2 linked regions of the Homo sapiens genome follow. The protein of the gene in region 1 purifies or fractionates together with the protein of each later gene. This does not show direct contact. Each region holds a gene or a part of one and is shown on either strand. Other genes may lie near its edges.

Region 1 (3,071 bases):
CACCTGCCATGGCTGGGCAGTGGGCCATGGAAACCCCTTCTGAAGTTCTCTCTTACAAAGTGTTTGATATTTCTTTAAAAAAAAAAAAAAGAAAGAAAGAAAGCCGAGCACAGTGGCTTACGCCTGTAATCCCAGTGCTTTGAGAGGCTGAGGTGGGCGGATCTCCTGAGGTCAGGAGTTCGAGACCAGCCTGACCAACATGGAGAAACTCCATCTCTACTAAAAATACAAAATTAGCCAGGCGTGGTGGTGCATGCCTGTAATCCCAGCTACTTGGGAGGCTGAGGCAGGAGAATTGCTGAACCCAGGAGGCAGAGGTTGTGGTGTGGTGAGCCGAGATCGCTACATTGCACTCCAGCCTGGGCAACAAGAGCGAAACTCTGTCTAAAAAAAAAAAAGGCAGCCAGGCTCCATGGCTCACAACTGCAATCCCAGCACTTTGGGAGGCCAGTGGGGGCAGATCAGCTGAGGTCAGGAGTTCGAGACCAGCCTGACCAACATGGCGAAACCCCATCTCTACAAAAAATACAAAAATTAGCCAGACATGGTGGTGGGCATCTGTAATCCCAGCTACTCAGGAGGCTGAGGCAGGAGAATCACTTGAACCCAGGAGGCGGAGGTTACAGTGAGCCGAGATCGTGCCACTGCTCTCCAGCATGGGCGACAGAGCAAGACTCCATCTCAAAAAGAAAAAAAACCTTTTTAAAAATAATTTCAGATTTTAAGTTTTATATCCTTAATGTGTTCTTTATTTCAAAGAGAATGTATGCTTGTAAACAATAAAAACAAGACTGTATAAAGGAAAAGGGAGTATCTTTGGTCCTCCTAGTTCCAGAACTAGATACTATCTGGAAACAGCACAGTTTTATATCCTAATGAAACTTCCTTTGAAACACTTTGACATTTTTTATTTTAAAGTAGGGTAGGACGTTATGTGTTTTATTTTATAATCTTTAGATTTAGGATTTTAAATAATTAAACCAAAATACATTTGAAATTACTCCACAGATATCTTGAAGCCTACCTATATACCCGCAATGCACTTACTTAATTGAAATTTACTTTTATTCCTAGAATGGAATCTATAGAGAAAATGGAATCTGATTTTAAAAACTGCCATATGTTTCTTGTAACCATTTTAAACAAAGCCGTCTGTAGAGGATCCTTTCCCCATTGTGAGTATATCATGTTAAAATATTTCTACCTCTGTATTTCCTTGTAACTAAGTGTATGTGTCATTGTTTTGTTACTGATCCCATGAAGAATTAGAAATTCTCACCATTTTCAAAACTGAAAAGTCCCTTAGCAGTTGTCCCATGCTTTGAATTGCTTTTTAAGCATTACGGTGAGGTGAGTGTAAGCCTGAGGATCTTACTTTCTGGTATACCATTTATTACAACAGATTTCTAAAACTCCTATTAAATAAAGTTGATGGCAGAATAGATTTCTGTCACACTTCACTATCGTGTAGTTTTTGTAACTATTTCTTTTCAAAATCTAGTCTTTTTAAAAATTTTTTTAGGAATTTAAAGCTCCTGGCCTGGCGCGGTGGCTCATGCCTCTAATCCCAGCCCTTTGGGAGGTTGAGTGAATCACTTAAGGTCAGGAGTTGGAAGACCAGCCTGGCCTACATGGCAAAACCCTGTCTCTGCTAAAAATACAAAAATGAGCTAGGCATGGTGGCACATGCCTGAAATCCCAGCTACACAGCAGGCTGAGGCAGGAAAATTGCTTGAACCCGGGAGGCAGAGGTTGCAGTGAGCTGAGATTGTACCATTGCACTCCAGCCTGGGTGACAGTGGGACTCCGTCTTCAAAAAAAATTTTTTTTCAACATTTAAACCTATTGTTTTAACCTTATTTTTATTCTTCCCACAGTGGAATCTCTAGCGTTGTCACTCATGGCTGGCATGGAACAAAGTTAAATGTCTTCAGCGTAATAAATATCTCCGACTTTGTCATCATACATGTACATTTCCACCATGTGCAGCTGAAAAGTGAAAATATTTTTATTTTGGTTTATTTGTAAAACTTGTCCACAGTCAGCCTGGCACAGTCGCTCATGCCTCTAATCCCAGCACGATGGGAGGCCAAGACAGGCAGATCACTTGAGCCCAGGAGTTTGAGGCCAGCCTGGGCAACATGGTGAAACCCGGTGTCTACCAAAAATACAAAATGTATCCAGACATGGTGGTGTGTACCTGTAGTCCCAGCTACTCAGGAGGCAAAGATGGGAGGATTACTTGAGCCCAGGAGGTCAAGGCTACAGTGAGCCATGATTGCACTACTGCAGTGCAACCTGGGTGACAGAGTGAGACCCTGACTCAGAAAGAACCACTTGCCCACAGTCCAGACAGATGGATTGTAGGTGGGTTTTCTGGAGATTAGTAGATACTGTATAGAGTTGTATACATAAAATTGTGTCAGTAGTACAAAGTGTATATAGGCTGTTTACTCTTACATTTCCTACTGTAAGATACAGATTTATGGTACTGATACCTTTAAATTATATCATATTTTGAAAATGTAATTACTGATATTCAAAATAAATTAAAGGACTTAAAATCATTTTATTATCCTTTTGCTGCTGTCCTACAGTCACAGAAGCTTTTTATATAGAGTTTTACATGTTGTCTTCCCTAAAAGTTGTCTTAGATGTAGCTGTCCTAGAAATGTTTATATTTTGGCTGGGTGTAGTTTCTCAAGCTTGTAATCCTGGCACTTTGAAAGACTGAGGTGAGAGGATTCCTTGAGGCCAGCAGTTTAAGACCTGCCTAGGCAACATATGAGACCCCATCTCTCCAAAAACAACTTAAAAATTAGCCAAGGGCTGGGCACGGTGGCTCACCCCTGTAATCCCAGCACTTTGGGAGGCCGAGGTGGGCGGATCATCTGAGGTCAGGAGTTCAAGACCAGCCTGGCCAATGTGGTGAAACCCCGTCTCTACTAAAAATACAAAAAAATTAGCCAGGTGTGGTGGCCCACATCTGTAATCCCAGCTACTTGGGAGGCTGAGGCAGGAGAATCACTTGAACCCAGGAGGCAGAGGTTGCGGTGAGCCTAGATTGTACC
Region 2 (7,178 bases), on another chromosome or scaffold:
TGATACAGATATTCACAGGAAATTTATAGTGAATATACTTACTTTAAAATACTACTCCACACTATCAAGATCAACAAATTAAAGTTTTGCTTCTACTTGGAAATAGCAAAATCATGCTAAAAAAAAACACCAATAAATATTTTTGCCCAAGTATTTATCCTGAAAAATTTAAAAGACATGGATATATGTATTTCTACTAAGCACAATATTTCAGAAACATACTAGTATACCATGTAGACTTTCTAAAGTATTTGTTGCACGTTGACAGTATAGCATAACTTCTTAAAATAAAAATGAAAAGGTTTTCAGGAATTTACAGAATATTTTTTTATTGTGAGCAAGAAATATTTTCTACAATAAGAGAAAGCTTATCATATAACACATCAATAAAGTCTAAATGAATCCTGTTTCAGAACTGTTTCGCCAATTACATGAGAGAAGAAGAAATCATTAGAAATTGCAACATTCTCATTTATTTTTATTTAATGAGATCAAATCATAAGACAGTGTCAAAGTTTCATATTTTCTACTGGTTAATCTGAAGACACAATGAAAAGCCATTCAGTCTTTAGTAGTATTAAGGATGAATAATTTCTGAGTTAGCCTCCTTCCATTTTTAAGACAATATTTCTCACAAGAGAAGTTTAGCTAAACAATAAGGGCCTTTTATCATTTTTGAAATTAATAGCCAAAGTTACTATTTTCACTTCTTCAATGATTTTCACTTCTACTAATTTTACCTAAGTACTCAAATAAATTTGAGTTCTATGTTCTTGAAGAATGTGCTAATTATATGCAAGCCAAAAACAAAAAAACAAAAAAAAAACAAACCAACCCTCCAACAATATATAAGCAACATTTACCTGCTTTTTCTTGAACAGCAACTGTTCCTTTCCCCATAGCTGATGTCATAGGTTGTGGTAGAACTGTGGCAATGGACGTGGCAGGTGCTTCTCTGACAATTCCGGAATTCTGAACTCCTCCACTAGCAGCATTCACATTAACACTTCGTTTGTTCACTGTTGTGGGCTTATTTGAACAGCCTTTATTTAAACTTGACTGAAATGTAATGGAATATTTAAAAGCTCAGGTTACTAATGTTTCATACTATACATTAATATTTTATAAATTCCCTGTTAGATTAAAAAATATATTTTTTTCCTTGCAAATCTTAAGCTTGCTGGCAGACCTGAGTTTCCCTCTAAATTAAAATGTCTTTTAAAATACTTTTAAAAAGAGAGATATATAAGGAGAAAAAAAAAAGAAAAAAAGTTTTAAAACTAAATATCAAATGGCTTTGTACTAAAATTATTATACATTACATGTAAAATCATTATGTAATTATGAAACAAAACTATACTGTTTAATTGACCACATATAATTTCCATATTCTGAGTTAGATTTATTTAATAAAATAAAAAATGCTGAAAAGAAAATGTCTCACCTTAGTAAGAACAGTGGAGTACTGAAATGCTATACACTGCACAGATGTCTTGTGAGCACTGATGGTCTTAACTGGTGATTTCAACATTCTTAAATCATATTGATATATTTTCCCCCGGGAAGATCCAATAGCCAAAGTGGCTCCATCAGGCATGAAATCTACCGCAGTTAGAGGAGTGTCAGCCACTAAAGTTTTCACTAGCCTTTGGAAAGGAGAACAAAGTATGTGTAGAAATGTTAGTGTGTACAGGTATATTAGCTTATATAAGTAACTATATACCAAAACCAGAGTTATTAACACTTCAAACTGGTCAAAGAGCACACATATCCCAAATATTTGTTTAAAGCATAATTTCAGAATTTGACTTAGAGACATTTCTAATAAAATGGCATATAGAGAACTGCTAAACATTCCATCTTACTTTTCTATTCACTTCCAATAGGTACATTCTGCATCTTATAGAAGCAGCACCTATTTCTTTAATTATTACTCTGACAGTGAATGTAGCAGAACTGTCTATTACGCCACAAACAGGGGCTCTGGCCTCATGGTTGAGGAGGGCCTAAGTATCCACTTTCCATTTATTGACCTGCTTAGGCCTCATGAGGACTATGACCTTTCACAGGGGAGCAGCTGTTACTTTGTTCTTAGTTGTACAGTCTTGGCCAAAAAGCTAAGAGGAACACAGTTCACATGCTTGATCCTTAGGAAGCTAATAAAGAAATACGGATGGTGATCTGCTGAAGCTGAGCTCTTTACTGGTGTGTATAGTAGAAAAGAAGAATGGCTTACTGGGCTCTCAGTAAATTGTTCCATAAAAGAAGACAGCAAATAAGTCCTAACAGTAAAAATTCTAGCATCATAATAAAGGCTGACAGTGGGACCTTCCCTTGTAGTAACATTCATACTCCACATGATCTACAGACAGTGGTAAGCATCTTGAATACAACTGTATCACTCTTGCATTCTTTTGTTTTTGTTTTTGTTTTTTAGCTAACTAAGCATACCTAAATTTAACAAGAAGAGGGTACAGTGGGCCCAAATGCTTAGAGGATTATGTACACCAGTACATAATCAGTATTTCTCAAGTGGGTGCTCCCAGGTTGTCCCTGGTTACTACCAGGGGACATCTGACAATGTCTGGACACAATTTAGGCCATTGGTATTTAGTAAGCAGAGGCCAGGGATGCTGATGAATATCCTACAATACCCAGGACAGCCCCTCACAACAAAGAATTACCCAGCCCAAAATGTCAATCGTTTCTAAACCTTCCTCTAGATAATTAATCAGTTTTAAAGCAAATTAATCATTTGGGTTAAAAACATATGCATTTTATCATATTGTGGAAAAGATGCTAAAATTAAAATGTGAAATCATTAAGATGTCATCTCTCTATGTTCATGTTTCAGAAGTACCCTAAATACTACCTGCAACCCATCTATTTCTTTCTGCATAAGAAGAAAATTCTTTCTTACTAGATCCATCAACTGTACAAACTTTAGGACCCCTGGACACTAATCAGAGGTCTATATAAATCACAAATATGCCTGTTAATGGAATAATAGCTATTTGTTACTAAATTAAGAAATAAGCATGTCACACTTACTTCTTACTTGAAGTGTCATAGAGGATGATTCTTTTATCCAAGCCTATGGTTACAAAGAGCAATTCATTGACAGGAGAAAAACAGATGCCTGACGCTGGAGCTTTGTGTACACTGTCAAAGTTATGGTATGGACTCTGACTATTTACATCCCAGAGAGTTACTATTCCATTATCCGAAACACTGCCCAGTAGTGATTTCTTAAACAAGGAGTACTTCAAGTGCCGAACAGACTATAAAAATGAAAGAATAAATTTTATGTAATTATAAGCATTCATAAGGACATTTGATATAAGCCATATAAATTATGGCCAACCACACTATTCACATGGGGTTTAGGATTTCTCTGATGTGTAAGAGTGACAGGTTTCAGCCAGACGTGGTGGCTCACGCCTGTAATCCCAGCACTTTGGGAGGCCGAGGCAGGTGGATCATCTGAGGTCAGGCGTTCAAGACCAGCCTGCCCAACCTAGTGAAACCCCATCTTTATTAAAAATACAAAAATTAGCTGGGCATGGTGGCAGGCGCCTGTAATTACAGCTACTTGGGAGGCTGAGGCAAGAGAACCACTTGAACCTAGGAGGTGGAGGCTGCAGTGAGCCAAGATCACACTATTGTACTCCAGCCTGGGCGACAGAGTGAGACTCTGTCTTAAAAACAAAACAAAACAAAACAAAAAAACCCAACTCTGTCTTAAAAAAAAAAAAGAAAAGAAAAGAAAAGAAAGGGTAACAAATTTCAATCATGACAACCACGGTGTCATTCAGTGGACCATAAGATGACATACCAATACCTGAAACATACCAATCAATAGCCTATTAATATTTGTCATTTTATTATCTTGGAGTATAGCTACCTCAATCTTCTCCTTTCAGAGGAAAAATATAATACATTGAGATTATCTACATTAATTCATCAGGGTTAGAACATCCACCATATATAAAAGGCCTTGTCACAGTCAAATCAACAAGTATAAGGGAATACTGGGAGAAAAAAAAAAAGCAATAATATTTTGTATTTGTTTTCTATATTTTAGATATTTTGATACATTTGTTTGAATCTGAGCATCTGATGCACTGACAATTCAACACCTGAAGCATAATTTAAAAAAAAATTAAACCACAAAGGAAAAACTGGCAACACTCTAGACTGGGGATGGACTATATCCATTGTTTCAAAACCATTAGCCTGAGGGCAATGCTGGCCTTTCTCTAAACACAAATCCCTGCAGGTAGTGGAGATATTCTCTCTTCCTAGCTTCCATGGACCAGAATAAACAAAGATCTAGTTTGAATAAACTGATCTTAGACTAAAACTAACTGAATTTTATCTACTTTTCTTTTTTACTAAAATGTTACTGTCAAACTTGTATTGATGTTGTCATTTACTAGGCGGAAAATTAAGTACTTTACATTTAAGCTAATTTTTCCCTATGAATTTATATTCTACTTAATTCTAAAATGTCTCAAATAATATATATTAGCTCTCAACAACAACAAAAAATGTCTAGGAAATACAGAAACCAAATGCTAAGAAAAAAAAACAAAAAGGAGTTATTAGTCACCTGGCACCTAAGTTAAGACAATTAATATGTTAACCCATTAAATTTGCCCATTTTCATATGGCTAAAGTACAAAGAGAAAATGTTGGTTTATATAATTTTTATTTTTGTTGGGAAAAAGTATATCCACTTGAATAGTCAAATCTTTTCTCTGGTCCATATTCAAGAAAAAATAAACTACATGAATGTTAACTATATAAAAGACACAGACCTACTTAGTGCATTATGTTAATGATTACAGAGTCATACACAACATATCAAAATATAAGGCAAAACATGATTTCTAAAAAGATTTCTACAGCACTTTAGGAGTTCATATAGTTATCGTCCTTCACATGATCTAAATTTAGACTAAATACACAAGTAGAATTTTTAAAAACACCATAAAAATCACAGACCTGGTAGATTCTCGAAGTTCATAAAGTTTAACCTCTTAGCAACAGCAGGAATTTTCCTACAACATCCTTAAAACATGGTTATCCAGAATCTGTTTGCATCTATCAAACAACAAGGAGCTTACCACTGTCTTTAACACAACTTGATAACCAGTTAAAAATGTATTCTTGATCAAGACAAAACCTAAATTCTGTATCTTACTTCAAGTTCTTGGGACCTACATGGCAGACTATTTAAAAAAAAAAAAAAAAAGGCTAAAGATAATGATAAATGTTCCCTTCAGATAAACCTAAGTTCAGTGGACGCTCAGCAAACCTCTGTATGATTTAGGTGAATTACTTAAACTCTCCAAAACTCAGCGTTCTCATCTACATAATAGAAAACACTCTTGTTTTCCTGACACAATTATTTTGAGGATTAAATAGCATTTCTGTACAGAATCAGGTACACAGTAGCCATCACCATTTCCAGAAGTTCATAACTTACTTGCTCATCATTGCTTATGTACCCACCATTCAACCATCTTTTACATATTTTTTAAAAGACCCTTAAGTAACCACATTGAATTCTTTAAATGTCTCCAATTATTTCTGTGATAATACTAACAGAATTTCATTTCTTAACTTTCTATATCTGTTAAATCTTCTCTTTAGAATATCATTAAGATATTAGCTAAGAATCCTGGATAAACAAAACACTGATTTACTAAATTATATATATATAATTTATATATATAAATATATTTACTTGTGTGTGTGCATTTTATATATATATATATATATATATATTTTTTTTTTTTTTTTTTTTTTAAGAGACAGGATTTTGCCATTTTGCCCAGGCTGGTCTCAAACTCCTGGACTCAAGCACTCCACCTGCCTCAGCTTCCCAAAGTGCTGGGATTACAGGTGTGAGCCACCGCACCTGGCCTCCAAATTATATTTAAAATAAATATTAACTTATTTCAGTATCAGCAGCACTTAAGTCATTAACTCCCTATCTTGTTCCAGACTAAATTATTTATAAGAAAAGAATTAAATCAAGAAGCTTATGGGGGGGAAAAAATCCCGGCAGTATAAGCAGCAATGCTATTTTTTCTTATACCACATTATTGTGTAAGAATGTTGCATGTTTGTGGAGGAGGGAGATTGTTTCTAAATATAAAAAACATACCACTCACTAAAGGTGGGGGGAAGGTTTCAAAAACTTATTTAGAAGTAGTTACAGACAATATATAGATGAAAAGCATGGCTGTGTTCCAATAAACTTTACAAAAATAAGTTGGCTAGACCATAGGTTATAGTTTTTCAGTCTCTACTAAGATAATTATTTAATAGAAAAAAATTTTTTTTATCACAAAGAAGAAAAACCATCCATAATCCCACTACCCAGAGAAAAAGTGGTTGACATTTTGAGGGGGTATCCTTTAAGTATTTTTCTGTGTGTATGTATGCTTCTGTGTATTCAGTAGAGTATCAACAGAAAACCTGGAATCATACTTCATTATAAACAGCCATGTCAATGTTTTCTACTTGATTTTAATAGCTGTTTAAGATATGAATGCATGAGTATACTAATTTACCTAAATAATATCATGTTAGACATTTGGGTTACTTCTGATTTGCAAGTACTCTGATTACTATCCTTTTTTAAAACTGTTAATTTATGAAAAAAATTGTAATTCATTGATGTTCATGCCTTAAAGGTTCTCAGTTGAAAATATGAAATGACTATTTGTCTTTCTTCTTTTGCAAACTGCTCATTATTCTACTTTGCCTATTTTCTATTGGGCTATGAAGATTTTTAAAATACTAATTTGCAACTGCTCTTACATTGCAACTGCTCTCATACATTGTAAATACCTTCCCTATTTCATTTAAATTTTGTGAATTTTTGCCTTGCTTTTTGTCAGAAGTTTTAAATTTTTATATATTTATATTTATCAAACTTGTTGCCAGTGACTTATAACTATACTTCTTTATATTTATGCTTAGAAAAGCCTTCCCTTTGCACAGATAAGAACATACATTCACATCATTTTCTTACTAGGCACTATAAAGCAGTAAGAAATTAATACAAACATCTTAACATACATATGAACATACACACATATATATGGCCATAAATATAGTGTTCCTTTGACTCCATCCTATCTTCTTGATTCCCAGGGCCTTAC

Evidence for each region. Proteins that work in one complex are often made in the same cells at the same time.
Region 2: the proteins of TUBGCP5 (region 1) and NEDD1 purify together in Homo sapiens (affinity purification with mass spectrometry; 3 studies listed by BioGRID and IntAct, with this or other methods). This does not show direct contact.

Annotation. Positions count from the first base shown.
Region 1 is NC_000015.10:22,998,673-23,001,743, reverse strand, and holds the end of TUBGCP5 (gamma-tubulin complex component 5), read left to right. Parts: intron 1-1,074; coding exon 1,075-1,175; coding exon of another isoform or gene 1,176-1,222; exon of another isoform or gene 1,223-1,460; intron 1,461-1,877; coding exon 1,878-1,924; 3' UTR 1,925-2,567; downstream 2,568-3,071. UniProt on the Homo sapiens protein: Component of the gamma-tubulin ring complex (gTuRC) which mediates microtubule nucleation.
Region 2 is NC_000012.12:96,931,079-96,938,256, reverse strand, and holds part of NEDD1 (protein NEDD1), read right to left. Parts: intron 3,282-7,178; coding exon 3,052-3,281; intron 1,647-3,051; coding exon 1,445-1,646; intron 1,060-1,444; coding exon 864-1,059; intron 1-863. UniProt on the Homo sapiens protein: Required for mitosis progression. Promotes the nucleation of microtubules from the spindle.